Linked DNA regions of Homo sapiens. The protein of the gene in region 1 purifies or fractionates together with the protein of each later gene. This does not show direct contact. Each region holds a gene or a part of one and is shown on either strand. Other genes may lie near its edges.

The links.
Region 2: the proteins of HAO1 (region 1) and KCNAB2 purify together in Homo sapiens (affinity purification with mass spectrometry; 3 studies listed by BioGRID and IntAct, with this or other methods). This does not show direct contact.

The regions. Positions count from the first base shown.
Region 1 is NC_000020.11:7,934,901-7,950,570, forward strand, and holds the start of HAO1 (2-Hydroxyacid oxidase 1), read right to left. Parts: upstream 5,559-15,670; 5' UTR 5,523-5,558; coding exon 5,386-5,522; intron 1-5,385. UniProt on the Homo sapiens protein: Broad substrate specificity (S)-2-hydroxy-acid oxidase that preferentially oxidizes glycolate.
Region 2 is NC_000001.11:6,037,755-6,053,308, forward strand, and holds the start of KCNAB2 (voltage-gated potassium channel subunit beta-2), read left to right. Parts: upstream 1-8,133; 5' UTR 8,134-8,429; intron 8,430-13,756; 5' UTR 13,757-13,782; coding exon 13,783-14,000; intron 14,001-15,554.

The DNA.
Region 1 (15,670 bases):
TTTTGTGAATTTTGACAAATGCATACAGTGGTGTAACTGCCATGACAATCAAGATCTAGAAAAAGTTCAATCATTCCCAAAAAAGTCCCCATTTTCTTTTGCAGAGAAACTCTCCCCAGTTCAATCCCCTGACAACCACTGATGCATTTTTTCTTTGTCCTGATAATTTTGCTTTGCAAGAATATCATGTAAACAAAATCATTCAGTATGTAGCCTTTTGAGTTTGGCTTCTTTCACTTAACATAACGCATTAGAGATTTTCTCATGTTGTTGTACGTGTCAATAGTTTGTTCCTTTTGGTTGATGAATAATATTCCATCATACAGGGGTACTATCATTTGTCCAGTCATTCCCAAGCTAAAAGACATTTTGAATACTTACAGTTTGGGGGGAAATTCTAAATAAAGCCACTACAAACATTCACGTACAGGTTCTTGTGTGAACATAGTTTTCGTTTCACTTCCCCAATCTTGAAAATCAAGATGGTATACAAATGCATAGAGTTTAGATTAGAGTTTAAGAAGATATGCTATGTCTAGTTTGTCTTCTTTTTATGTGATAAACAGCAGCTTCAGGCAATTACTTTTAAAATTATAATTTGGTTTCTTCAAAATTATTTAGTTATATGCCATATTCATTAAAGTCTAATGATGAGGGAAGGTTTTTTATTAGTTTAATTTAACACTTTTCTCAAAAATGTTATTTGACAAAAACTGAAATTTGGGTGTTAAAAAGTTTTTGACTCCGGAAAATTATTTTAAATGAATGTTTCTGTGATTCTTCTGTGTTGGAATGAAAATTACCAATAAACCAGCAACCAAAAATTCACCAGTAAAATTTACAGAAGAACTAGTTCTCTTTCCTCCTGGCAAAATATATCTCTCCTATTTGTTTTGATTTATTATTCTCATTAGTACTGATTAAAATTGAAGAAAATACAGCCCTATTTCTAGTATGCATGAGTATAATAAACGTGTTGTTTAGGCACACATGCATATCTAACCAGCATTCACCTAGTATTTCCTAGATGTAACTCTACTTCCAGAAACAGCATGACTTTTTAGTAAATATAGTGAAGTATGATATAGTAATGCAGTAACTTAAAGAAAAAAAAAGAAGAAAAAGAAAAAGCCCTTAATCGAAGCGTGCTTCCTGTAGCGGAAGAAGAAATTCTGCCTTCTATTGCTTTGTGGAATAGCTAAGGGTCTGTAATCTAACCCTTCCTCACATAATAAAGTAAAAACATCCAGTCCCTGAAAAGCATAATAAAGAAGTTTTACTGTGTGATTTCTATGCTATTCCTTTGAACATTATAATTGTCATTATTTTATGCCACACCACATGCTCTGTTGCTGAAAGTCTTTTCTTCTTGACGGACCCTCACAGCATGATTCTTTGATCTCCATTTTGAAGGGGGAGAAGCAGAAGCCTTGAAGAGAGTTTTTATTACCAATCATCTCTAAGTGTGTTATTAGAATGAGAGAAAACGATCTTAATAGCAGCCATTGGCATGCCAGCCTTGGAAGGCATTAATATTTACTTAGAGCTAGAGAAACAATGAAAGCTTTATGACAAGAACAAGCAAATCTGCAGGGCAGCAGCCGTGTGTGTGTGTGTGTGTGTGTGTGTGTGTGTGTGTGTGTGTGTTCGCGCGCGCGCGCGCGCGTGCGTGCCAAAAGGGACATTTTTAAAGGTCAAATTCCCATTTATAAAGCAAAGCTGAATCCTTCCATCTCCAGACAGTGGCTTTACACTTGTCCACTTGGTGGCGCAGTCACTTTAGTAACTGCGGGCTCTTAATTTCCCTTAAACAGTATTTTCTGTTCTGAGGATAATACAGAGGCTTGTCAACCAATGCACAAAACGTAATTGCTACGTAAAATTAGATAAAATCAATGGAATGGGAACAGGCATGTTATCTAAAGAGTCCTCCATGTTTTGATATTTTTCAAATAGTAGTAACAACTATGTCAGATAGCTCACTAGCTTTCCAAGCCTTGCCCAACCCCACTCCAAATTTAAGTAAATTTCCCACAATCATACATAAAATAGCACCTCACTATATTCTCGGACTGTGCTTTCCTGGGCCTCCACTTTGGAAAAAGAATTGGTTCAACTGGCAAACAGTTGAACCAATTGAATAATAAACCGTTTTCAAAGGATAGAAAATGAGATGCCAGAGTAAAGGAAGCGGGGTAACGGGGAGAATCTGTTCACAGGAATTTTGGCCCACCCTCACATCTAACAGGGGCCTCAAATTTAACTTATAAAAAAATCAAATGATATATACACTCCTCACAAAGTAGCTGCCCTGTTGAAGGAAGACACCCATGCCTCACCCAGCTTTATAACTGCATGCTGTTTCTGAATCACACTAACTGGACATAGTGGATTCATGTTTTGTAAGTTGTGTAATCCTATAATACTGCATTCCAATTTTCTCCACATTAATTTTTTACTCTAAACAGTTAAAATATATAAAGCAAAAACACCTTATTCACCTATTGTGGATACTAGATAAATTATTTTGTGACATTTATGCCTATGAGAACACAATGTCACTGGTAACTTCATATCACTTCTCAAATATTAAAGTGAAAGAATGACATCACTTTTACCCATCTGTTATTTAAAAGAAAATGATGCCATCTTCAGTCTCAATAGGTAACGCAGCAGAAAAGAGTTTCCTTTTCTGAAATCATGAGGGCTTCTAAGTGTCGAAATTGTTTAATCATCTTCCATCATTGATAATTTCAGAAAAAAAAGCTACAACAACGTGAAGACCATAGTTGAGAAGGCTACTTTGAATAAATGTGTAAGAGAAACAAATTACTGTTCTTCGTTGAATTAATCCCAATCAATTCCAGCCATGCAAAATGTAGCAAGTTGACATTTACCCTGTTTTGTTATAACCACCGTAAGAAATTTTGTTCTGGGTGGTTCCATTTACTTGTCCTTTTAAACATTTTTTTCTACTGCCACAGTAATATTAGTCTGAAGTCTTACCCAAAAATATCTCCAAGCAACTGCTGGGTCACATGAGTGGTCCATGTCCCCAGAACTCCAAAATGTGATTATCAGAGCTGAGTACAGAGAAATAAAAGCTGTCACGGTGAATGACCTTTTGTTGTACTTGCGAGATGGGGAGGTGTATAAATTTCATAAATGTGTTTGAAATACTCTGGCTTTGTATCACAATGGGTTATCTGAGGTTTGATTGTTTTGCACTTTTCATTAGAATCAGAATGTGAAATTTCAGGTTGATTTCCTTCATGCCATCAACCCAAAGTCTCCACAACCCTGGCAGAATTTCTATTCTTAGTTTCACGTGACCAGCTACATGATGCAGTGTGAGGAATCAAGGTTCACCTAGCGAGTCATACAGCAAAAGAGGACACATTGCAAAATGTATTGCAATAAAAACTCAACTAGTTGATAATAAAATAGCATCAGCTGTCCTCCAAAGAAAGTTGATTGATTTTTTTTTTTAATTTAAAGCTGAACAAAAGAGAATGATCAAGGTTCATGGAAAAGGTGACACTGCAAATTCATTTTCATTATCTGTGTCCTATCCCTAAGTTACTCGGTACACACATAGGATGGGAATACTCACTTGAATACCATGTAATTCACATAAGGCATGAGGCACTTTTCCAGTTCATAACTTAGAAGTCACCAAGCCTTCTATGTCTCCCAAAGTTTCTACATTTTAAAGGGTTGCATAGGTGATCCATCTGCTTTGGGGCGCCCCTTTGCATCCTCTCTGAGACCTCCACTTGGCCAACTATTTTGGGCCCATTTTGCATCAATTCAACCCAACAGCATTATGGAGGCTGATATGCATCCAGGGGAATGTAAGTTCCTAGGGACAGGAACTTTGTCTGGCTCACTGCTTTGTCCTCAGCATGTAGTACACAGTGTAGCTCATGGAGACTCCTAATTAGCTCTAGTTAATTAGCTAGCATGCGACAAAGGGAATTAAGAAGTAAGGAAAGCTGTATACAAATGAAATAAATAATCACTTGAGCATTGGAGGTCTAGCAATGCTGAGACACTAACTCTATAAATCTGTCAAGGGTCTGAAATTTCCTTGGTTGTAATAACCTATTTGGGTTAAAGTGTTTTCAAGAGACCACTCATAGGCAAATTTTGGTGGACAAAGTTAATATCGGCCCAAGAAGGGGCATCTTCCAAGAGCAGAAACTTTTAAATGAGTCCAAAATAGTAAATAATGATGCAGAATTTTAAGCCCCTCTACTCTCAGTCAACTTCCCTTCCCATGACTTCCCTGGCATTTGTTGAGCTCATTTGGGTTCCAGGCAAAACCTGAGACAAAGTCAAGGCTTGAAAGGGTTGGGGAGAGGCCGTATCCTTCACCCCATTGCCATTTTCAGTCTTCTACATGGATTTGTGGGTGAATCAGTGCTGCCTACCAGAGACCACCTTGGCCAGGATAATTTTATTTCTCCTAATTTAAATATGGAAAACTGATTTTGAGTGATTTTGTTGTAGACTAAAGAAGAAATCAGGGAGGAAGGCTAATTCTCTCCCCCTGCATATTTTCTGCCTTTTTGTCTTTATCACCATCAATGAGTACCCACAATACCGATTGCCTTTACTAACAGCCATAATGTTAGATGGATGAGACTGAGTGTAGTGTAGTGAAGGCACTCCTCTCTTGCTCCAGCAAATAAACCATTTTTGTAACTGCTATAAAAAAAAACCCTTTGAAATGATTTTATTTCTTGTTTTTATTACAAACAGAAAACATAAACCATGTCACCCACCATCTTGTGCTTTGAAATATGAAAGTCAAAGGAAAACTAATTTGGGAAGAGAGATGAAGTGCTTTGAAGGAGAGATGAAACAGCAAAGTTGAAAGATTAATGCTGCATAGACAAATTGAAATCTAAAGTGAAAGTTTAGACAACAGTAATCAAAATGAATGATAACACGAAAAGCCAGCAGGAAGAAAACATTTGAGCCAACAATCCAGTCTGGTTCATCCGGATAAGATGGTTATCTGGCATTTAATGCTGTTTCCTACACCATGAACATAAGCATTTACTGTCATACTAAGAAAAAGAAAAGTCATCCGAATTTATCGCTATTTTTACATGTAGTTAAATTAATTGTTGTCATATTTCCAAGTGAAGTAACATAGGTTTGGCTTTTGCAGTCAGTTCCTCAAGATTCACAGGCTTGGAATATTTTTTAACAATTTAAAGGCCCAAGATTTCTTACAGCCCCAAGAACTTTTCCCTCTCTACTAAGCACAAATCTGAACAAATAATTACACACCACCAACGTAAAACTAGGAGATCTTATTTTGGTACGGTCTTTGTGTAATTTTAAAACATGATTTTAAAAAATAAATTTTCTTACCTGGAAAATGCTGCAATATTATCAGCCAAAGTTTCTTCATCATTTGCCCCAGACCTGTAATAGTCATATATAGACTTTGGAAGTACTGATTTAGCATGTTGTTCATAATCATTGATACAAATTAGCCGGGGGAGCATTTTCACAGGTTATTGCTATCCCAGATGGAGTTCGTTGTTTTTTTTTTTTTAATGTATTGCTTTCTACATCCTCACTGTTCTGTTATTTGTCAATTATTAATAGACTTTTGCCAAAGTTCAGATTTAGTTCTCTGTTGCTTACATCAAGTGAGCAAACATTATATGCTTAGCCTTTGAAATTTCATTTGTAGGCTATCTGCCAAAGAACACCGAAGTCACTATCTGCCAAAGAACACCAAAGTTGAGGTTGGGAAGGCAGCAGAAGGTGATTAGGTGTCTATCACATTAAAAAGGGGAAAGGAATAAGTAAAAAATTAAAGACTTAGAGGAATACCTGTATGAAACCACTCTTGGTTCAGTTTTGCCTAAGGCTGCTTATTGCACATGGTCTGTGCCTGTGCTCTTTGCTTGATACCCAGAATAGGCTGCCCACTCATTTTCTTTCCACATTTGGATCATGCACAAATCATGTAAACAAGAGCTTATGAACTGAACGGGGCATCCATGAAATATGGGGCATCCGTGAAATTCAGGGCTTCTGCACAATATAAAATTTAGCTGATTACAAACATAGACATTTGGCTTTAACATGGAACATTAAGGCCAAATTGACAGCTAATTGTTTTATTCATTCTGTATATTTGAGGTTTACAACATGATATTATGAGATACATATACACAGAAAAATGGTTACAGTAGGGAGGCCAATATAATATATGTATCATCTCACCCGTAATTACTTTTTTGTGTGTATGACAAGAACAGCTAAAATCAACTTATTTAACAAAAATTCCTAATATGATACAATTTTATTAACTTTAGTCCTCATTTTGCACGTTTGCTCTCTAGACCAGGGGTCCCAAACTCCCCAGCATGGACTGGTACTGGTCCGTGGCCTGTTAGGAACCAAGCTGCACAGCAGGAGGTGAGCAGCCGGTGAGCAAGCTTTACAGACTGAGCTCCGCCTCCTATTGTGAACTGCACATGCGAGGGATCTAGGTTGCGCCACTCCTTATGAGAATCTAATGCCTGATGATCTGAGGTGGAACAGTTTCATTCCAAAACCATCCACCTACCCCCACTGCCCATGGAAAAATTGTATTCCACAAAACTTGTCCCTGGTGCCGAAAAGGTTAGGGACCCTGTTGTAGATTTATGTATCCTACGTGTCTACTATTTTGTATCCTTTGACCTATATCACCCCTTTTCCTCTTCCCTGCTTCCCACTAGTGGTATTCACTGTTTCATTCTCTAGCTCTGTGCATTTGAAGTCTTTTTTAAAACAAAATCCCACCTATAAGTGAAATAATGCAATAATTTCCCTTTTGTGCCTGGCTTATTTCACTTAGCATAATGTTCTCTGGGTTCTACTGCAAATGACAGGATTCCCTTCTCTTATAAGGCTGAATAATATTTCATTGTGTGTATATCTATACATTTCCCTTATCCATTTGTCTCTTAATGGGCATTTAGGTTTACCATTAATTCTTTTTTTTTTTCTTTTTGAGATGGAGTCTTTCTCTGTCTCCCAGGCTGGAGTGCAGTGGTGTGATCTCGGCTCATTGCAGCCTCTACCTCCCAGGTTCAAGAGATTATTCTGCCTCAGCCTCCCAAGTAACTGGGACTACAGGCATGTCCACCACGCCTGGCTAATTTTTGTATTTTTATTTAGTAAAGATGGGGTTTCACTATATTGGCCAGGCTGGTCTCAAACTCCTGACCTCAAGTGATCCAACCACCTCGGCCTCCCAGAGTGCTGGGATTGCAGGTGTGAGCCACTGCACATGGCCTACCACTAATTCTTAGAGTCTTATCTTGCCCTGGAGAGGGTATAGGGAAGTGCTATTCCAAAAGACCTGTGGTCTCAGTCTATAATTTCACTCAATCATGGAACACCTGGGGAAGATTCACATTAGTAGGATATGCTTGAGAAAGCAATGATTTTAACTACAGTTAGACCTGAGTTTCAATCTAGGAGCCGCCACTTAAAGCTGCTTGCCAGTTGTTCACTATCTACATTCCAACCACCTACACCTGTAGGAGAACTTGCTCTTGAACTTGGAGCCTGCTTTTTTCATAAACATAGCATGCCAAATAGTATAGTTCCATACCCTGTGGAACAGCCCTCAATCACAAGCCCAAGAAAGTTCATTCTTCTGGTGGGATTACTCCTAGGATTATGTTCTACATTGCAGGTTTCAGTTATCCACAGTGTGAGCTGGTTGATAATCTATGCTGTGTTGGCTATGTTCCTTTTTTGTTTGTTTTTTGTTTTGAGATGGAGTCTCACGCCGTCACCAGACTGGAGTGAAGTGGCGCAATCTCGGCTCACTGCAACCTCCGCCTCCCAGGTTCAAGCAATTCTCCTGCCTCAGCCTCCCGAGTAGCTGGGATTACAGGCTCATGCCACCACACCCAGCTGATTTTTGTGTTTTTAGTAGAGATGGGGTTTCACCATGTTGGCCAGGATGGTCTTGATCTCTTGACCTCGTGATCCGCCCAACTCAGCCTCCCAAAGTGCTGGGATTACAGGCATGAGCCACCGTGCCCGGCCTGGCTGCCTTCCCTTCTAATCAGACTTCCCTACTCCTCATTGGTGCTCCCTTCACCTCCCAAATAAACTCCTTGCATTTGAATGCTTGCCTCTCAGTCTCCTTTTGGTGAAACTCAAACCAAGACAAAGAGAAATATTCATCCCTACCCTGAGGAGTGACTGTGAGGACAAAGGATATATCATCGCTTAAACACCTGGCATATAGTAGGCACAGTTGACCTTTGAACAAAAAAAAGGGTCCACTTATATGTAGATTTTCTTTAGATTCTTCCACCCCTGAGACAGCAAAACCAACTTCTCCTCTTCCTCCTGCTCCTTATTCTACACAATGTGAAGATGACAAGGATGAAGAGTTTTGATGTACCACTTACACTTTATGAATAGTAAATATATTTTCCCTTCCTTATGATTTTCTTAATAACATTTTCTTTTTTCTAGCTTGCTTTATTGTAAGAATACAGTATATAACACATGTAACATATAAAATATGTGTAAGTTGATTTTGTTATTGGTAAGGCTTCCAGTCAACAGTAGGCTACTAGTTGTTAAGTTTTGGGGGAGTCGAAAGTTTTACACGGTGGGTCGGTACCTCTAACCCCCATATTGTTCAATGATAAACTGTATTTCATTAATATTACCCACCCTCATCTTCTCAATATACTTTACCAACACATTTTTCCAAAAGACTTTTGTTTAATGTCAATTATATAAGGACAATTCCCTAATGTACGAGAGATTGGACAAAGGGATTCTTGAGCTTCTGGAAGGCCATTGCCATTTTTCTTCAAGTAAGTTAATCCCTTTGAGTATTTCTTTGCTAGATTTGCAATTAGTCCAGTTTATTTTCTACACCCCCAAGAGAAGTGTCTTTCATAACTAATGTATATTTATATTATCAGATCTTTTTGAAAATTGCCTTATCCCATGCTTCATGAGGCTTTATATGGTAGAAAGAATAGGGTGTAAAATCATATCTTACAGTGGGTAAATACCCTTTGAGTTTATTTTGGAGAAGGAAAATCGTCTAAGATGAAGAAGAATACTAAGGGGTTCAGTATGTAATCTGTGACTTAGTTTTGACCTGTGGCCACAGAGTGAACACAAAGCACGGTCACCTGTTATATGAAATTCCCATGCTGTGGGTCACCAAAAGGAGCAGGAGAGAGGATATGGATCAAATCTATTTTTACTACTGACAAAGCAACTAGAAACCAAAGATGCAGGCTCCATAGCAGCCTATTAGGCAAACTGGGAATGAAACCAGAACCAAAAATATAAGCCATTAGGTCTTTCCCAGCTGTAATGATATAGTATATAAAAAATAAAGGGTTTTAATTTAATCGAAGGGTCATATGCTGTTAAAATTGACATAGAATTTTATAGTACATAGGTTTATTCTCAAAGTTCACAAATGCTTACTTTTTGCATCAATGTAGTGACAGATGAAATGACATATTAAAATCGCTATTAGGATGTGAAAAATCTGCCAATAAGATAAGCAAGTTCTAAATAATTCAGTTTCATAGTTAACAAAATTATTATGAAAATGTGGTCAAAGGGATCTTAATTATGGCTTATAACTCATTCAAAATGTAAAGATTAAAGCATGACCTTTTATCTGCATATTTATGTGCAAATTTAGCATTTATTAAAATAATTAGCATCCTGCAACTAATGTGATTAGAATGAAGAGGCAATCTAATATTGTTAATCAGGTCAAGTCCCGGTGAAACTAAAGAAGACACATAAGGGCCATTGGTTCTTAAAGTGTGACTTTGAACCAGCAGCATCAGCATCACCTAGGAAGTCATTAGAAATGCAAGTTCCAGGCGTCATCCTAGTCCTACTGAATCAGAAACTCTACAGCTATTTGTGCTGTAACAAGCCTTCCAGGTGATTTGATGCACAACATTGTTTGAGGACCATGGTTTAGGCGAGATGGAATGTAAAGGGGGACTTTTTTCTTAAGAGGCTTATTCTTTTTTATAATTTCAACTTTTATATTAGATACCAAGGCACATATGCAGCTTTGTTACCTGGGGATATGGAATGACGCTGAGGTTTGGGGTACAAATCCTGTCACCTAGGTAGTGATCACAGTACTCAATAGGTAGTTTTTCAATCCATGCTCCCTTCCCTCCCTCCCCACTGTAGTAGCCTGCAGTGTCTGTTGTTCTCATATTTATGTCCATGTGTGCTCAATGTTTAGCTTCCACTTCTAAGTAAGAACATGCAGTATTTGGTTTTCTACTCTTGCATTAACTCACTTAGGATTATGGCCTCCAACCATCTCCATGTTGCTGCAAAGGACATTATTCCATTCTTTTTTATGGCTGTACAGCATTCCATGGTATATATGTACCACATTTTCTTTATCCAATCTACCACTGAAGAGCACCTGGATTGATTCCATGTATTTGCTATTGTGAATACTGCATCAGTGAACATATGGGTGTATGTGTCCTTTTGGTAGAATGATTTATTTTCCCTTGGGTATATGCCAGTAATGGTATTGCTGAGTCGAATGGTAGCTCTATTTTAAGTTCTCTGAGAAATCTCCAGACTGCTTTCCACAGTGGCTGTACTAATTTACATTCCCACCAACAATGTATAAACATTCTCTTTTCTTCACAGACTGTCCAACATCTGTTGTTTTTTTTGACCTTTTACTAATAGCCATTCTGACTGGTGTAAAATGGTATCTCATTGTGATTTTGATTTGCATTTTTCTGATGATTAGAGATGCTGAGAATTTTTTTATGTTTCTTGGCTGCTTGTCTGTCTTCTTTTGAGGAGTATCTGCTCATATACTTTGCCCATTTTTTAATGAGGTTATTTGTTTCTTGCTTGTTGATTTCTTTATGTTCCCTATAGATTCTAGATATTAAGCCTTTATTGGACGCATAATTTGCAAATATCTTCTCCCATTCTGTAGGTTGTCTATTTACCCTGTTAATAGCTTCTTTTGCTGTGCAGAACCTTTTTAGTTTAATTATGTCCCACTTTTCCATTTTTGTTTTTATTGAAATTGCTTTTGGGAACTTAGCCAAAAATTTCTTGCCAGGGCCAATGTCAAGAAGAGTGTTTCCTAGGTTGTCTTCTAGTAATTTTATAGTTTGAAGTCTTACATTTAAATCTGTGATCCATGTTTAGTTAATTTTTGTATATGGTGAAAGGGGTCCAGCTTCAGTCTTTGGCATATGGCTGGCCAGCTATCCCAGGACAATTTATTGAATAGAGAGTCCTTTCCCCATTGCTTGTTTTTGTCAGCCTTGGCAAGAGTCAAATGGTTGTAGGTATGTGGCATATTTCTGAGTTTTCTTTTCTGTTCCATTAGTCTATGTGTCTGTTTTTGTACTAGTACTATATTATTTTGGTTACTGTAGCTTTATAGTATAGTTTGAAGTTGGGTGGTGTGATGCCTCCAGCTTTGTTCTTTTTGCTTAGGATTGCTTTGGCTATTCGGGCTCTTTCTTGGTTCCATGTGAATTTTAGAAGTTTTTGTTTTTGTTGTTGTTGTTGCTGTTGTTTTTTCTAATTCTGTGAAGCATGACATTGGTAGTTTGATAGGAATAGTGTTTAATTTGTAGATTGCTTTTGGCAGTATGGCTGTTTTATGATATTAATTCTTCCAATCCATGAGCATGGAATGTTTTTCCATTTATTTATGTCATCTTTGATTTCTTTCAGCAGGGTTTATAGTCTCCTCGTACAGCACTTTTACCTCCCTGATTAGCTGTATTACTAGGTATTTCATTTCTTTTGTGGCTATTGTAAGTGGAATTGTGTTCTTGCTTTCACTCTCATCCTGGACATTGTTGATGTATAGAAATGTGACTTATTTTTATACGTTGATTTTGTATCGTGAAACCTTACTAAAGTCACTTATGAGTTCTAGGAGCCTTTTGGCAGAGCTTATAGGATTTTCTAGGCATAGAATTATATCATCAGTGAACACAGATAGTTTGATTACTTCTTTTCCTATTTGGGTGCCTTTTTTTTTTTTCTCTTGTTTGATTCCTCTGGCTAGGACTTCCAATGCTATGTTAAATAGACATGGTGAGAGTGGGGAATCTTTGTCTTGTTCCAGTTTTCAAGGGGAATGGTTTGAACTTTTGCCCATTAAGTATAATGTTGGCTGTGTGTTTGTCATAGATGGCTGTTATTATTTTGAGGTATTTTCCTTCAATACCTAATCTGTTAAGGGTTTTTGTCATAAAGTGATGTTACATTTTATCTCATGCTTTTTCTGCATGTATTGAGATAATCACATAGATTTTGCTTTTAATTGTATTTATGTGGTGAATCACATTTATTGATTTTTGCATGTATTTCCTACTTGATTGTGGTGTATGAACTTTTCGATGTGCTGCTGGGTACGGTTTGCTAATATTTCGTTGAGAATTTTTACATCTATGTTCATCAGTAATATTGGCCTGAACCTTTTTATTTCTGTTGTGTCTGTGCCAGATTTTGGTATCAGGCTGATTGTGCTTCACAGAATGAGTGAGGAGATTCTTCTCAATTTTTTTAATAGTTTCAGTAGGATTGGAATCAGTTCTTCTTTGCACATCTGGCAGAATTTGGCTGTGAAACCATCTGGTTCAGGTCTTTTATTTTCTTGGTATGTTCTTTATTACTCATTCAATTTCAGAAGCTGATATTGGTCTGTTCGGGGTTTCAATATCTTCCTAATTCAATCTCAGGAAATTGTGCGTTTCCACGAATTTATCCATTTCCTTTAGATATTCTAATTTGTGTGCAAAGAGTTGTGCATAGTAGTCTCTGAGGATCTTTTGTATTTCTGTATTTTTGTATTTTGTATTTCTGTAGTTGTAATATTGCCTCCGTTATTTCTGGTTATGCTTTTTTGGATCTTCTCTTTTTCTTTGTTAGTCTAGCTGGTAGTCAATCAATCTTTTTTTTTTTATTTTGAACAACCAACTCTTGGTTTCATTGATGTTTGTTTTGTTTGTATTTTTGCATCTCAATTTCATTAAGCTCTTCTCTAATTTAGCTCTTCTTTTCTTCTGCTAGATTTGAGTCTAGTTTATTCTCTTTTTTTCACTTCCTTTAGGTGTAGAGCTAGTCTGTTGATTTGAAATATTTCTAACTTCTTGATGAAGGCACTTAGGGCTATAAACTTTCCTCTTAACAATGCATTGGCTGCATCCCAGGGATTTTGCTAAGTTGTGTCCCTATTTTCATTAATTTCAAAGATTTTTTTTATTTCTGCCTTAATTTCAATGTTTACTCAGGAGTTATTCAGGAGCAAGTTGTTTAACCTCCATGTATTTCAGTGGTGTTGAGAGATTATCTTGATAATGATTTCTGGTTTTATTGCACATAGTCTGAGAGTGTGCATGGTGTGATTTCAATTCTTTGAATTTATTGAGACTGGCTTTACGACTGAGCATGTGGTCAACCTTAGAACATGTTCCATGTGCAGATGAGAAAAATATATATTCTGTGGTTGCTGGGTGGAGTGTTCTGTAGATGACTATTAGGTCCAACTGGTGAAGAGTTGACTTTTTCCAGAGTTTCTTTGTCGGTTTTCTCCCTTGATAATCTGTCTAACACTGTCAGTGGGGTATTGAAGTCTCCCCTATTAGTGTGGGGTTGCTAAGTCTTTTCTTAGACCAAGAACTTGCTTAATTAAACAGTGGGCTCCAGACTGGGTGCTTATATATGTATGATAGTTAAGGCTTCTTGTTGGATTGTACCCTTTATCTTTACGTAATGCCCTTCACTGTCCTTAATATTTATTGGCATAATGTCTGTTTTATCTGATGTAAGAATAGTGACTCCTACTCTTTTTTGTTTTCCATTTGCGTTGTAAACCTTTCTTCATCCTTTTACTTTGAGTCGTTGGTGTCATTACATGTGCAATGGGTCTTGTGAAGGACAACAGATGATTAGGTCTTATCATTTTATCCAGCCTGACACTCTATGTATTTTAAGTGGGGCATTTGGCATATTTGCATTTAATGTTAGTATTGATATGTGTGATTTTAATCCTGTCATCATGTTGTTAGCTGGTTGTTATGTAGACTTAATTGTGCAGTTGTTTTATAGTGCCTGTGGGCTATGTGCTTACACATGTTTTTGCGGCAGCAGGTATCATTCTTTTGATTCCATGTTTTGCACTCCCTAAGGGCCTCTTGTAAGACTGCTCTAATGAAATGTACTCTTTCAGCATTTGCTTATCTAAGAAGTATTTTATTTTTCCTTCACTTATGAAGCTTAGTTTGGTTGGATATGAAATTCTTGTTTGAAATTTCTTTTCTTTTAGGGCAGTGAAAATAGACCCCTAACCTCTTCTGGCTTGTAAGGTTTCTTCTGAGAGGTCTGCTTCTAGCCTGATGGGGTTCCTTCCATAAGTCACCTGCCCCTTCTCCCAGCTGCCTTTAAGATTTTTTTCTTTTGCATTGTCATTGGTGAATCTGATGACTGTGTGCCTTGGGGATGGTTATCTTGTATAGTATCTAGCTGAGGTTCTCTGTATTTCTTGGATTTGCATGTCAACTTCTTTAGAGAGATTAGGAACATTTTCACAAATTACCTCTTCATTAAATATATTTTCCAGGTTGTTCATTTCCTCTCTTTCTCTCTCAGGAATGCCAATGAGATGTAGATTTGTTCTCTTTACATAATCCCATATTTCTTGGAAGTTTTGTTCATCTTTCTTATTTCTTTCTTCTTTATATTTATCTGACTGAGTTGATTTGAAGAACTGGTCTTTGAACTCTGAGATTCTTGCCTCATCTTGTTCTTTTCTGCTGTTAATACTTACAACTGTTCAACGAATTCTTATAGTGAATTTTGCAGTTCAAGGAATTTAGTTTAGGTCTTTCTTGAAATGGCTACTTTGTCTTTCAACTCGAATCATTTTACTGGATTGCTTGGCTTCCTTGGATTGAGTTTTAACTTATTCCTGGATCTCAATGAGCTTCCTTGCCATCCAGATTTTGAATTCTATGTCTCTCTTTTCAGACTTTCACACTGGTTAAGAACCATTGCTGGAAAGCTAGTGGGCTCATTTGAAGGTAGGAGGACACTGACTTTTTGAATTGCCAGAGTTCTTACACTGATTCTTTTGTATCTGGGAGAGTTGATGTTCCTTTGACTGTGTTATACATTGAATATAGTCCATTGGCTTCATTTCTGGAAGTATTCAGAGAGCTAATGCTCTGTACAGGGTCTTTGTTGTTGAATTATTATAAATATTATGGCATCGATGAATGCAGGAACACTAGGTTTTTTGTCTTGAGTTGAGTTAGATAAGACATGAGCACCCATAAGAAGCTTAAATTAAAAAAAAAAATCCACTTTTTTTCTTTTTGTACTACTGCAGCCCAACAGTTGATTTGGTGTACCATCTTAGTAGGTAAATTCTGAAATGCAGTCCCCACATTGCTTAATCTCTTGGTGGGTAGAATGAAAACAGTGGTTGGAGATTAGAACAGCTTTTGTTAATTTGCAATGATTGCATTGTTAAAATATCTCACATTCTATCAGACACAATACATTCTTTAAAACTTCTCTCCAGGTCTCTGAAGTCAGATGCTAAAGAGGCACACCACAGCAAAACAAG
Region 2 (15,554 bases), on another chromosome or scaffold:
CCTCCAGCCCCCCAGTGCTGCAGGGATTCAATCACCCCAAAGCCAGGTAACCAGCCTTGGCCTCCCAAAGTTCTGGGATTACAGGCATGATCCATCGTGCCTGGCCTGAATGAGGGTCTTTTTTTTTTTTTTTTTTTTGAGGCGGGGTCTCGCTCTGTCACCCAGGCTGGAGTGCAGTGGCGCGAACTCGGCTCACTGCAAGCTCCGTCTCCCGGGTTCACGCCATTCTCCTGCCTCACCCTCCCAAGTAGCTGGGACTACAGGCGCCCGCCATCACACCCAGCTAATTTTTTTTGTATTTTTTAGTAGAGACGGGGTTTCACTGTGTTAGCCAGGATGGTCTCGATCTCCTGACCTCGTGATCCACCCACCTCAGCCTCCCAAAGTTCTGGGATTACAGGTGTGATCCACCATGCCTGGCCCAAATGAGGGTCTTTAAGAATAAAACTCCAGGGGATCGTCACCAAGCCCCACCACTTCCTCTGAGGTTAGCATAGTGCTGGATCTTCTCTGCATCTTCTGTCCTTGTTTTTGGTTTTCATTTTGGTTTACTTGAAACAGGATCTTGCTCCATCACCCAGGCTGGAGTGCAGTGACACGATCATAGCACTCTGCAGCCTCAATCTCCCAGGCTCAAGCAATCCTCCCACCTCAGCCTCCCGAGTAGCTGGGATTACAGACATGCATCACCACGCCCAGCTAATTTTTTTATTTTTTAATTTTTTTGTAGAGACTGGGTCTCTACAAAACAAATGTCTCTGTGTTGCCCAGGCTGGTCTCAAACTCCTGTGCTCAAGCAATCCTCCTGCCTCGGCCTCCCGAAGTGCTGGTATTCCAGGCTGGTCCCATTTTACCAGCAGGTCTACACATGTGCTCACATCGCTCACTCAGAGGAGACCTCCGTTATTAGGGGGACCTAGACCTGTGCTGCCTTGACCCCAGGGACAGAGGTTGTTTGGGAATCCCCTCCCTTACTTTGATTTCTTCCGAGGAAGCCGGCTTCCTGGTGACGGGAGGTCACTGTTCTGGGGAAAAAGAGTGGGAAAAACAAAGCCAATCAGCCACTTGGCTAAGTGTCAGGTTTCCCAACAACTTCATGGGTTGCTGTGGATGGGCGGGGCTGTTTTGAGCCCAGACCATCCCTTTGCCTGTGGGTGTGGGACCACGTGATTTTGGATCAGGGGTCATTTGTCCTTCCAGAAGCCAAGCCCTGTTCCAGGCATGGGGGTGCAGCAGTGAGTGAGACCCACAGAACCACTGCCCTCCTGGAACACACCCCCCCCAGAGAGGGAACTGGGGCACCACAGACCCGTGTGCAGGCAGCAAGGGCGTGGTGTCGGCCGGGGAGCAGCAGGGACCCCTGAGCCCCACAGTCGGGGCTCATGGCGCTGAGAAGCACTGCAGCAAGGGCGCAGCCAGTAGGAGAGGAGCCGCAAGCGCAAGCATCCGCAGACAGTGTGAGCTCAGCGTGCTGGGAAGGCGGGGGCCTGGGTCAAGGGCCAGGCGGCAGAGCATAGGGGCCTGAGGGGGCAGTGCCTAGGAGTGGGAGGAAAGAGCATGGGACCAGATTCACTTTGGAAATAGAAGCCCCCAACCAGCAGCCAGCCAGGTGGAGGAAGGCGTGCAGAGCTGAGAGGGTTCAGGAGGCGGTGGGGGGAGCCACTGGGAGGGGACCCAGGGGTTCAGGTGAAAGACAGCAGTGGCTCAGCCCAAGGGTGGCAGCCAGAGATGTGGGTGGACGGCTGGATATTGGCAGCCATACTCATTATCAATGCTGCTGTAACAGCTCATCACAAACCCTGCAGCTTCCAACTGCCCAGAGTGAGATCTCCTGGTTCTTGTGGGTCAGGCATTGGGGCAGAGCAGGGCTGGGTCTGCTGTTTTGGGACCCCTGAGCTGCAGTCGAGGTTCTTGCCGGGACTGGGCTCACCTTGGAAACCTCTGGTAGGAAAGGATCCACTTCCAGGCTCCCTCGTTCGTTTGAAGGACTCCTTTCTTTGGGCTGTTGGGCTGAGGGCTCAGCTTCTCGCCAGCTGTCGGCCCGAGGCTGCCCTCAGTTCCTGCCCCAAGGGCCTCTCCAACACCACAGCTTGCTTCATCAGAGCCAGGAGGGACAGTCTCTAGCAAGACAGAAGTGACAGTCTTGCCATTACCTTTGCCGTGTTCTGCTGGTTAGAAGCGACTTGCTAGGTGCAGCCCACACTCCAGGACAGGGGCTGCCCAAGGGCAGGAATCCCAGGAGCTGCGGACATCAGTGGCATCTGAGAAGCTGCCTGACTTAGGAGCTCAATGGCAGCACCAGGAAGCTGCACTGGGCTGGAGTCAGGGCAAGGGACAGTGTCAGCGATGACCCTGGGGGACAGCAGTGCAGTCAGGAGCTCAGAAAGTACACAGATGCCCCCTGGGCGGTCTCTTCTGCACCATGTGGGCAGCAGAAACTACACCTACGGTTTCAGAACAACAGTTGGGGTGGTGTGGAAGGACCTCCACGACATATAAGGTGGGAGTGTGGAGTGATGGAGTGTGGAAACCCTTCTCACAGTTGTCACCTGCTCTCCAGCCCCTCCTGAGCCCGTGGACCTGCCTGCCTGCCGTGTGTCTGTCTGTCGTCTGTCTGTCTGTCTCTCTGCTGAGGGGCTCCCCGATGCCCTGAACCCAGACAGCCTCCTCAGCCTTTGTGATCCCAGAGTCTCCCGGCCAAACCTGGTTGATCTTTTTTAACCACCACCCTCTTCCCCTCCCTTATTTTGCTTTTCTTCCAGAATTTTCCCACTGTAAAAAACCGAGCAAGTCTGGATAAGTGAGGCTGGCTCCATGTATCCAGAATCAACGACGGGCTCCCCGGCTCGGCTCTCGCTGCGGCAGACGGGCTCCCCCGGGATGATCTACAGGTGACCCCCTGCCCCCTCACCCAGGCCCCCTCCCAGGGTCAGTCCTGCTTCGAGGACGGGTTCCCAAGGCCACTGTCCTCCCCTCTGGAGGTGGAAGGGCCCAAGCAGGGCCCACAGGCTTCTGCCTTCCACGGGGTTTTGAGGTGCACGCTGGTGAGCGTTTTCTCCAAGAAAGGAGCAGGGGCTTTAAAAACCCAAGTGGGAAAGAAAAACCAAAACTTTTCCAGGGCGTTTGAGCCAGAGTAGACTCCTTTCTTGTCCCTGACCCTTCCGAAATATCTCGTTTGAGGTTAACAGAGCGGCCGGACAGTGAGTGCACGGCCAACCCCGGCATCCTGTTCCTCCCACTTTATACATCGCAGCCCCTGTGGCCCTGCCAGTTTCTCCTGAGCGAGGATGACGACCTTGCAGGCCTTTGGGGAACCACGTCTGCCGGTTTCCCAACACTGGAGGGAGTGGGGGCGGCCAAATGCTCCTGGGGCATCCTGACCCCCTCCTTGTGGAACTCACTTCCGCTTGCAGCCCTGGGTGTTTCTGTCTGCACCATAAACAGCGCTGAACATCAGCGACAGCTGCGGAGGGCGTTCAGTGAGAGCTGAGCCTCTGGGGACAGAGCATAGAACCCACGAAAGACGCAGGCACAGGCAGTACCCCAGCAGCCCATCAGTCTTGGGAAGCCAGACCTTTCCGGATAATCACTGGGGCCTGAGCCAGAGCCCGTGTCTGTGACAGCCACAGGGAAAGGCAGTGTCTGTCCTAAGAAGAGCCAGGCGGGCAGGTGCGGGTTTGCCAGCACGCGGGTGCTCTGCACGTCTGGGTTGGAGGGTTTTCAGCCATTGCCCACAAGCATATTGCAAAGCAAGTCCTGAAGCACATTCAATCCAAACCAACCCTCACTCGGAGGTTCACCACGGAAAACAGGGCCTGGCATGGAAGGAGCCCTTGGTGTCCAGGAAACTGGCTCCGGGTCTCTGCCCCGTGGCCACCGGGTGGCGCTGCTGCAGAGCACTTGGCACCGGCTGCGCTTCCTCAGAGACTGCCCTGAGCAGGCGACTGGTGGGGGCCCGGGGGCATGGGACATTGGTGGTTCTTTCTGACCTGCACCTGCTGGGGTTGATGCCAACTGTGGACTCTCTCTCTTCTCTCCCTTTCTCCTTTTTCTCTTTTCTCCATTGCTGTCCGAAGTACTCGGTATGGGAGTCCCAAAAGACAGCTCCAGTTTTACAGGTAATGAGTCTTCATTCTCCCTAAAACCCAGCGAGCCGAAGGCCAGGGAGCGGGTGGGAGGACTGCACCCTTGCCGAGCAGGGTGTGCTGGTGTATTCTCTGAAGCCAAAGCCCCCGAGACCCCCAGGCTCTGCTCATCACCCTCTGTGCCTACCCACAGGATGCTGTGCAATGTCCTGATGGAAAATGTGAAGTCAGGTTAATTGTATGTGTTGGTCTGCCAGAAGTTTGCTTTGATTTGAGCAAATGGGCTTTTGATGACTGCCAAGCTCTCAGCCAAATCTACCGTTAAAGCTTCACTCATCAGGCAGTGAGGGAGATGTCTTCCTGTGGTCACCAGCTTGCCCTGCTTCCATTATCAGAGTACAGGACGTGGCGAGCCCATCCGTTCCCCCTTTGCCTGTGGGTTTGACCTGATCTGGAACTCACAGAGCTCCTCAGGCTCATTGAAGGTTAATGCCTGCTTGGGGGTGTGCAGTACTGATACGACGTGGATCAGTGACATCTTTCTGATATGTTTTTCTGTTGGTGAATTAACAAACCGGGCACCTGGCGAGAGACTGTGCCCCAGCAGGATGTGACATCAAGATGCCAGGCTTAGGGCCCTGCAGGGTGCTCTTGGGGAGACCCGTTCCTCTCTCTGGGCTGCCTCTCCCTCACCTGTAAGGCAGGGGATGCATGTTCTTGGTGCAGCCTCCAACCCTAGGAAGTAAAATGTCAGGGCTGCCTGGAGCCCATGGGCAGCAGCCTCCCCATGCCTTGGGACTGTTTGGGGAATTGGCACGGCTTCTGGCAGCAGGTCCCTGGTATGCATTGCTGCATCTTGGCGGTCAGGCCGGGAGGTCTCTCTATTCGGACCCGGACATCTGGTAACAGTGCTTTGGGGATCGTTGCCAATGTGCCAGGCAGTGGTCATGGAGGTGGCAATGTATTTCCATGTAGCTTTTCTCTCCCCGCGCCCCCACTCCCCACCCCCCCCCCCGTTTGCCAGCCATAGCACCTCTGATGGGGACCGTGGACCTAGATGCTCAGAGTGATCTGTGCCACGCCTTCAGTGCCTCCTCGGAGGTCCTGCTCCTTACAGGGAGCTCTGAAGACATGGCCAACTCTTAGATCCTACTGAAATTTTGGTAGATAAGATTTTGCTTAAGATAGTTAAATCTGAACTCCGGCTTGCAAATGCTTTCCCTGGATGAAATGTTTGTATTGTGATGTATGTACACATGGTATAACAGATCCTAACAAACATATGCCGCTCATCCCAGGGGATTTCATCAGTGAAACAAAACATGTACCTGAACTGCATCCTCAGAGAGCCGGGAGCAGCCTCAGTCCTCAGAAGGGAAGGGGTGAGGTCTGATGAGCAGGCAGGAAAATCCCAGGTGCAGACCTGCCAGCTCAAAAGGGCTGCCCACAGGTACAGACCATCCAGCTCCAAGGGCCTGCCCCTAGGAGGGGCCAAGTAAATTATCCAGTGACCAAGTGAGAGCCTTCCAGCCCACTCAAGGCCCTCAAAACCCCACAGGCTCAACATGTTGTCCCCCCCGCCGGGATCCCTGTGCTTAAGAACCTTCATTTCCAGGTGGCCTTCCTGGCCCCAAGGGAAGCTCTGAAGCTTACCCTCTAGGCTCTCAGCCCCAATTCTGGTGCCCACAGGCTCTGGCCATCCTACCCGTTGGATCTCCAGGGGGTCACTTGGGTGTCTCTTGTGGGGGCTCTGGAGATGACCTCTAAGGGCTAGGGTCTTTGTTTGTTAACAGGCTGGGGGCCACTCCTAGTAGGGCACCCTCATCACACCAAGCATACCACTAAACATGGCTATTGGATGGTTCTTTCAGTTACTTAGGCCTGGCCCTCTCACAGGGCAGAGGCGTTCAAGGCATGTGCCCTGCCCCCATGCAGCTCCCAGGCAAGGAATTGGCATAGGACACTGTGCCAATCAGCTGTCCACCAAGTGCTGCATAACAAACAACTCCAAAACTCAGTGCCACGCAGCAATCAGCATCTCTTCCTTGCTCCCGTGTCTGCGGGTTGACCAGGCAGCTCGTCTAAGCTGGCTTGGCTGGGTTTGTCTCCAAGCTGCAAGTTGGATCCCCATGTCCTCCATCTTCCCATGCTTAACTGGGGCCTACCCCAGGCATGTCCTTCCCATGGCAAAAGTACCAGAGGAAAAGCAGAAACATGCAGGGTCTCTTACGGCCTATGGTTGGGGTCAGAGCGCTGTCACCTCTGCTCACGTGCTTTTGGCCAAAGTAAGTCTCAGGAACCAGCCCACAGTCAAGGGGCTGGAAATATATTGCCCCCACCAGTGGGAGGAGCTATAAAGTCACATGGCAAAGGGCATGGGTACAGAGAGGGGTGAAGGATTGGGAGCAATACTTCCATGTACCCCAGGTCTCAAATAGCCCTGATGATCTCCAGAAGGCAGAGCACGTCACAGGAGAAGCCCAAAGAGCATTTGGGGTCCAAGGAAGGAGGGGCCACAGCCAGCTGAGAGCCAAGAAGACTTCACGGAGAAGGCAGCAGGGGCTTGGATCTGGTCCTTGAAGGCTGGGCAGGATTCAACGCAGAGGCTGGGAAGCATATTCCAGTAGATACAACAGCCTGAGCCACAGCTCAGAGGTGTGCACAGAGAACAGGAAGTGACAGTTACCCAGCCTGGGCCATCAGGGACATGATGGAGAATAAAGAGAGGCTGGCTGTAGAGGTGGATGTTGGTGGGGGGCCTCGAATGCCTAGCGATGGGGCACAGATGCACTCAGAGGGCACTGGGGAGCCATCTATGGTGTTTGAGCAGGGCAGGGGTCAGAGATCTGCTCTAGGAAGGAAGCCTGGTAGCAGGGAGTAAGACAGGGAAGAGAGAGGCTAATGCAAGGAGACCAGACAGTGCCCAGGAAAGGTGCAGGACGGCTGAGCTCCAGGAACTGCACAGAGAGAGAATGAAGGGGTGCAGGGCCTGAAAAAAGGACGTCAGAAGCCACGTCCACAGGGCTTGGCCACTGATGGGCAGGTGCTGAGACAGAAAGGGACAGAGAGGAGCAGTGGACCCAGGGAAGGAGAGGGCCTCATTCGGAGCATGTTAGGCTGCAGCTACCACCCAGTAGTGAGGCGCAGGCCCCCCGACCAGGGCGACATGTGGGGATCTGACAGAGTGGGCTTGGGCCTTTGGGGACAAACCATTTCAATTGCCAAGGCCTTCGCAGCTAGTCACCCGCAGCCAGGCACCTCCAGACTCTACGTGCTCTCCCAGCCTCCCACTTCATTTACCTTCCACACTGCGACTGGGGCACTGATTTCCTGTCCCCCACCTTCCCCCATGGCAGCTACCACTGTTTGCTCATTCATCATGGGGGGACGGTTCTGCCTCCATTCAAAATCCCACATTCACTGGCGCGCTTTCTCAGCCGGAAGATGATGTCACGCTGGGACTTTGCTGGCATCCTGTGACACGCAGTGACCCTGGGGGTCATGACCCTGGGGTTGGGGCTCAGCACTTAGCCTCATCCCAGAGCTCAGCCTTGTTTGGCCTAGTCTCAAAGCATTTCCCAAACCCCAGGTCAGGACATGTGCCGTGGAGAAGGGCTCCTGTGTCCCTGCCTGGAGTGAGTGGCAGTGTGGAGTCCAAATAGCAGGTTCTGGGGCCTTCCTGCCATTTATAGCTACCGGTAGTATCAGATATACCCATCTCGGGTGTATCCCCAGAGGACAGGAGGAGCATGCGCGTGTGCTGAGCAGAGGCCTCTCCAGACCCCCTTGGCTGTGGGTGGTGGCCCCATACGACGGGGCCCCCAGCTCCCCTGCTGCAGACACAGTTCAGAGTTGAGTGGTATGCGGAAGCCACAGGCTCTGTGTCCCGCACTCAGATACCAAAGAGCAAGGCCTGCCCCTTTCGACCTGTGGGTCCAAAGGTTTGTGTTTCTGGCACGCGGGGATGGTGGAGGCAGCAAGGGTAGGCCTGAGGGACGGGCAGGACCTCCCCCTCACCTTGGGCTGCACCCCAACCCCACGCACCGGGAGTCAGCCTTGCCAGGTTGCAGCACGGAACTGCACTTCCCGAGCTTTTAGGGGAAGAGGCACTCGTGAATAATTCAGCCTCTTTCACTGAGATGAAAACGCCCTAATAGAACTAATGGACTCGCTGCCTCAAAACTCGACTCTGGTGGGACTCATCTCATTCACCAATTGCTTCTGACGTCCTGCAGTGACACTCCCTAATGAAAAAGCCGCTGTGCCAGATCCTTAGAGTGTCTGGTGATCCCTAATAAACCAGACTGTGGCCTTTTTAACGAGCAGACGCCCCCACGAAGGCAGGTGAGTCCTCCCTTCAGCCGCTACCTTCCTAGTGGAGATGCCGCTTGGGGGCACGCATCCGCGGGAATGAAAAATAACAGAGGAGACCATATTTTGGGGTGGTTTTGTCTGATCCGGAATTAGACCCTCCGTGTTTTTGCAAAGCAGAAGACCTTAAAAAAGAGCCAGCCTGAGGTAAACTTGGAATGACCGTGATGGATGGGGTGGTGGGCGGCAGGTTTCAGCCGGGCAGCACCTCTCGCTTGAGTCTGCTCACAGCCCAGACCTGCCCAAGGCTGACTGTTTTCCCATCTGCCGGAGACACGGGCGTCTAGCTCGTACCTCGCTGTGTTCACCATTGATTAAGATTCAGCATTTTCCAGTTTTGCCCAGAGCGCTGTCAGGGAGGTTTGGTCTTGTCTGAAATGTCTGTGCAGGAAGCACGTGCTGAGGGAGCCAGGGGCTGCTTGTTTGGGCCTCAGTTTGCTGATTGTCCTTGAGCGAAAATCATTCTGTGTTTGCACTGAAGCAATGCCGTGTCTTGTAGAGCCGCACCCCGGAATGGTAGCAGCTCCCCTTCCATTTCCGCTTTGGAGAACTCTGGCTGGGCTCTCTGCTCTCTGGACAGGTGTCACCATTCAGAAGAGATGCTCAGGGTTCCTTCTCAATCTCAGGTTGTATGCTTTGTTGGCTTTCAGTAAACAGAACAATTCAGAAATTCCAGGTAGAGGAGTCTGGGGTGAGGTAGTGATTCCTACTGACTTAATGAGGTTAACATCTTCCTTGCATTTTTCCATGTCACGGTGTTAATTCACGTGAATTCCCCTGGGCCCCTGATCTACAGGAATAGATTTGCACCAGGCAGGCCCAGCCCAGGAAAGAACTTGTGGGTTCCACGTAATTAGCAATGGCTATTGAGGAGGGGCTCGTTTTTCTTGGTACCAGGGTGGTGAGGGAGTGTCAGGGCTCAGAGACCCTCACTCTGGAAAGCGGCCGGGATTTGGGATATTTTGAATTGGAAGTCAGGGGTCACTGTGCTCTTGAGCACAGGAGAAGTGGGGACCCTGAGGCAGGAGCCCGGCAGTGGGGCCACTCTCTCCTCCCTGCAGTGTCTTACCGGGGGGCCCTTCGTCCAAGGACCTGACGCTGCTAGAGTCTCGGCAAAAGCCCAGAATAGAGCCCCAGTGTGAGGGAGTCCAGAGGTGTCCTCTGTCCCCAGGCACCGCTGGTAACGGGCAGAGCCTCTTTGCCTTCTGCCTGTACCTATCCTTCTTCCCCTGGGGCAGCCCTCCCAGAGTCATGAGCCTTCAGGACCACAGGGAGCCCCCGCTGTACAGAGTCCTGGCATGGGAGTCCCCCCCACACAAGAGAGGGTGACCTGCAAAGAGCTGCTGGGTCTGAGGTAGGAAGCCAGCCCCGCCCCCACCAACAGCTGCCTGGCACTGCCAGGAAATGCCCAGGTATAGCCCTGGTTGGCCTTTTGGAGCCTGGGCCTTGGTTACTGTTCTACAAATATCTGAGCCCCTCCTCTGTGCACGGGACACTCCCGTGGGCACTGGTCAGGGGGCAGTGGCAGCAGGCAGAAGAGTCCTTGCCCTCCTGGACCCAACCTTCAGGGGAGTCCAGCGGCCATGGGCTCCTCATGGCACCAGCCCTGCTCCTCACCCCACCACCCCATGCCAAAGGCTGCCATTTCTGTGCCCGCAAGTTCCCTGGCCCAAGCCCTGCCCTGGCACCATGGGGACAAGCTCGTAGCAAGAGGCTCTGGGCTCCCTCCGTGCCGCAGGGCTCCCACCTGCAGGTCTGCTCCCAGGGCTGCAACATGAGCTCTAAGGAAAGATTGCAAGCGGGCCCCCACAGGGAGGGACGCCCTCTAAATCCTGGCCACAAAACCCATTCTGTCCTGCCCTCTCTCCCCTCTCCCACTCACATCCCCAAACTCAGCCTTCCACCATCTTGTTGTGAAGGGGGCGATTATTCACATCTGTGTTCTCTTCCCTTAAGCATTTTCTAGGGAGATTTGGTGTCTGTGTGGCTCACTCCTCTCACTCAAACCTGTGGTCACAAGTTCCTTCCCGCCCTGCCTGCTGGCCCCTGGTGGTGGATTTTTCTTTCCACAGCATTTATCATAATTGGTGTCTTATCCCACGCCCCCCAACAGACTGTCTTCTGGCTGCGTCACCAACTCCCACCCAGTTGTCCAAAGCCTCATCTCATGCAGCCCACAGCAGCCTGGTACAACAGGCCTCTGCCCAGCCTACCTCACAGATGTGGAGGCTGAGGCCGGGAGCGGTCAAGGTGCCTGCCTGGGCCACACCATGAGCAGGTGACAAGCAGAGCTGCCCCTGTCCAGAAGCTGGGCACTCAGCCACCCCGTCCTCCAGCCCCGGGGCCTTGGCTATATTTCTAGAGCCAAACCAGACCCGGATTGCTTTTTGTGAGTAATGTCTTGAAAGCTAATGGCTATTGATCTCAGCCTGGTCGGGCCAGGCAGGGAACTTGCGTGTCTGAGGCTGGTCCTGCCTTTCAGAAAGAGCCCTGGGGCTACAGCCTGCCCAGCTGGCCTTCTTTCTAAACACAGACCTCAGGGAAGTGAGGGTTGGCCCCCATTTGCCCCACACCGGACTGGCAGCTAGCCACATGGCCACCTCAGAAGCAGCTGCCTGCCACGCGCATGGAGGGAAGGGAGTGGCCGGCCAGTAGGCAGGGAAGGGAAGCTGGTGCTGCTGTCTGTGGGTGCCAAGGGCCTCATTTCCTAAGGTGAACCTCTCCTGGAGTCCGGGCCTCTCTGCCCTCCAGAGCGATTCTCCTGGAAGGCAGACGGCTTTCCATGCCAGGGTACCCGCCTGCTTTAGCGTCCAGAGGTCCAGCAGCCACCACCCCTCCCAGCATAGAAATGAGCAGTGGTGAATGCAACTCCTGGCATGGGAACCCCCCAGCAAGAGAGGACGACCTGCAAAGAGCCACTGGGCCTGAGGCAGGAAGCCAGCCCCGCCCCCACCAACAGCTGCCTGGCACTGCCAGGAAATGCCCAGGTATAGCCCTGGTTGGCCTTTTGGAGCCTGGGCCTTGGTTGCTGTTCTACAAGTATCTGAGTCCCTCCTCTGTACACGAGGGGCACTCCCATGGGCACTGAGCAGGGGGCAGTGGCAGTGGCAGGAGGCAGAAGGGTCCCTGCCCTCCTGGACTCAACCTTCAGGGGAGTGAATTCAGCACACAGGACAGCTAGAAAGGAATCAGCAAGGTGGATGATGGCGAGCGCCATGGAGACAGATCACAGCAGGAAAGAGGCACATGGTGTGGTTTGTGTGGGACAGAGGGTAGGATGGGAAACGCAGCCCCCCCACCCCCGGGAGCCATGCCCATCAGACAGAGGTGCAGAGGTGCAGACAGCACAGCAGGCTCCCCAAGGACGACTGGTTGCTCGCCTTTAGGGAGGGGGCCATCCAGCCCTGACCAGGGTGGTGGGGCCAAGGCCTGTGTGGACACTGCTACCCAGCTCCCTGTAGGGGCTCCTCGGGGGCTCCTTGCCTGCTGGTCTCTCTTTAGCTCTTCTCTGAGCCCACCTTCCCTACCTCAATTGCATGTTCATGCAACAGGCATTTGTAGGCTCTGCTCTGAGCTAGGCCTCATGCTGGGCACAACAGGGCAGACATGAATGAAGGTCCCTGCAAATAAGATACAGACGAATACTTGCAGGGAAACCCCCATGAAAGAGGCAGCTGTGGGGCTCCTGGAGGTGGCCCCCCTCTCTGGGTGCACATATAGGCAGAGCAGTGAAAGGTCAGCAGGCTGGTCACCCATTCTGGAAGGACCCCAGCACATGGGGCTCATCACAAACTCCTGCCCCTTGTGGGTCTTTCCTTTGGCCCCTGGAGCTCACCCCAGGAAAGGCCCAGCCTGGGGCAACTCCAGGACATCTCAACCCCCTTCAAGGACCGTGCTAAAGCCTCTGTAGCTGCCTCAGCTCCCAGGATAGCCCTCCCAGCTCCTTCCCAGGGATAATCGAACTTTTCCTCTCTTGGGGCAGAAGGTGGGGACAGTGCTGGTTCCTTTCCAGCTCCCAGGCCAGGTTCCAGGATCCCACTGTGCAGCTGACCCAGCTGAAATGGTGACTTCCCCTCTGCACCTTCTCTCTCTGGTGATGATGCAGAGCTGCAGTGCAGGCCACCTGGGCCATGGCCGAGGCTGCAGTCAGGTGGGGTGAGGGTCACTGGACTGGGGACCTCCTTTGTGTTGAGCCTGCCTCCATGTCCTCATTGCGCTGTCACAGACTCTGCAGGGTGAGGACTCAGCCCCGAGGCTGCCCTCACTGGTCCACTCACTGTTGTGCACATGAATTAACACCAGTGGTTGCGTTCTGGACACACGCTTTCTCCCTTGGCCTTTTAATTGTCCACTATCTCTCAGGGCTCACTCACTCACTATGTTGAGATGCCTCATTCTTGACAGCAGCACAAATTCCCACTATGTGGATGGACTGTCACTTAGGTAACCAGTTTCCCTACTGATGGACATTTACATTGCTTTTAGTTTCCAAGAATGTGCATTCATCATTTCAGCTATATTTCAGTGGTTCTTCACATAGAAACTTTGAAACTCCCCTGTCCCAACTAAGCCTATTTCCCCAGGCCACTCTCCTCCGCAACCTGCTTAAATGCATTCTGCTCAGTTTTTCTTTTGCAAAAAGCATGAAGCCCAAAGATCTCTGCGGTGCAATGATGCGTTCAACAAGCAGGGAATGTGTTGTATAGATAGCATTTCCCTTTACAAGGCTAAGAGCAAATAGGACCTTCCCATGTTGGGGCCACCTGGCATGCGGGGGTGAGGTGCCTCCCTGGCATAATTACAGGAGAGTTTACTTCAGCAACAGGTGTGCCCTGCGCTGCTTTCCCAGGGACAGCTTTTGACCCAGTTTTACCCTGGGAACCACCTCAAGAGACCACCATGACATGGTACCGCAGTCACCACGGAACAGCAACCCTGGTCTTCAGCATTTGGGGGGCTCAGGCTCTGCATGCTCTCTGTGCTCCCGTTTTCATTTGGACACTTGGGGTGCAGCTGTCCTGCCTGGAATGCAGCTTTGCCTGTGCTTGTCTCACAGATGCAGGGGACAGAAAAGGGCAGCTTAGCCAGAGTTCCTGGCAAGCACTGCTTTGCGGACTGAGAATCTCATGCCAAGAGGTGTTTACATCCAGGGGCCGGGTCCCACTCCTAGACACCAAGACCTGGTGGTGGCACTAGTTAAAGGATGTTTCGCTGCAGCTGCCCCCTGCCCCAGGGCCAGCCATCCAGCCTGGGGCACGTGGGGCATTGGCACACTGTCTAACTCATCACCGTCTGGACAGTGGCAGCTCCCAAGCCAGGCGGCACCATGCTGTCCATGACGTACAGCGAGAGTCTGCGGAGCGTGAGCAGCAGGTGCCACTCTGAATGGGCCCTGCACCCCGTCCGCCAGACGGACACGCTGGAACTGCAGCGGCTGCGGGAGGTGCGGGCGGCTGCCCAGGCCAGGAACATGGAGAGCTTCCTCCGCATGCACGGCCTTTCCCTGGACGGCTGCACCGCCCAGCGCACAGGCATGAAGTATCGGTAAGGGCCGGGCAGGGGGGCGGTGGGGTGGGAAGTCTGATTTCAGCCATATAAATATGTATAAAAGGGCTGGGCACGGTGGTTCACACCTGTAATCCCAGCACTTGGGGAGGCAGAGGCGGGTGGATCACCTGAGATCAGGAGCTCGAGACCAGCCTGGCCAACCTGGTGAAACACCACCTACTAAAAATACAAAAAATAGCCAGGCATAGTGGGGCGCACCTGTAGTCCCAACTACTCAGGAGGCTGAGGCAGAAGAATTGCTTGAACTCAGGAGGCAGAGATTGCAGTGATCCAAGATCATACCACTGCACTCCAGCCTGGGCGACAAGAGTGAGACACTGTCTCAACAACAACAACAAAAATGTATAAAGGAAGAAAATGAGGCCAGGCACGGTGGCTCATGCCTGTAATACCAGCACTTTGGGAGGCCGAGGTGGGTGGATTGCTTGAGCCCAGAAGTCTGAGACCAGCCTAGGCAACATGGCAAAACCCCATCTCTACCCCAAAATACAAAGAAATTAGGTAGGCATGGTGCCATGCACCTGTAGTCCCAGCTACTTGGGAGGCTGAGGTGGGAGGATTACCTGAGCCCAAAGAATCTGATGCTGCAGTGAGCCGTGATCGCACCACTGCACTCCAGGCTGGGTGACAGAGCGAGACTCCATTGCGCAAAAAAAAAAAAAAAGTTTAGTAAATTCTCCATGGGGTAAAAATGTGTGGGTGTGTTTCTCCATGGGGAAAAATGTGTTTCTGGGTGTTGGAGACCCCTGCTCTTAATGATAGGCACGTAGGTCTGAATTTTCTTGGAACCTCCAAAGGACATTCTTTTTAGTGCGCTTGTCTTTGAATTCAGCACCTCGGACAGCGCTCTGCTAGCCACCGTTCTCTGGCTGGTGTAAATCCCTCTCAATTGCAAATTGACAGCTTTATCTTCTGTGCCTCTCAGGAACATGCCCTTGTGAGAGCCATTCAGCCAAAGAGGACCCTCCCCACCCAGTCCTTGTAGAGTTGCCAGTTAAATTTGAAGTTCAGATAAACGCGTAACTTTTTAGCATAAATACGTTCCATGCAATATTTGGGTCATACTTATACTAAAAAGTTCCTCATTGTTTATCTGAACTTCAAATTTAACTGGGCGTCCTGTGTTTTATCTGGCAACACTAAATATCTGGCTTCCGTCTGAGACAGACCCTAGGGATCATCTGCGTGCTCTGTGCAGAGTGGAGTGCAGGCCAGGACCGCTCCTTTAACGTTTTCTCCTGTGGACGGCGTGTTTGGTCCTTCAGCCCATTGTTTGAATATGTGGTTGTAATTTAGAAACAAAACACTTCTCCTGTGAGTCCATTAGATGGCAGTGTTTTTCAGGCTTTGTATCCTAAATCCAGCTGTAAAGGAAGGACAAAGGGTCCGCTAGTTTGGCCACAGCTGACCTCCTTGTTCTGCTGGAAATTTCTCAAGAAGGAGACGCTGGGCATTCATGAGGGGCTGGTCATTGATTCCTTTTGTTTATTCAGTAAATGTTTATTGAGAGTCTGCTTGGCACCAGGCGCT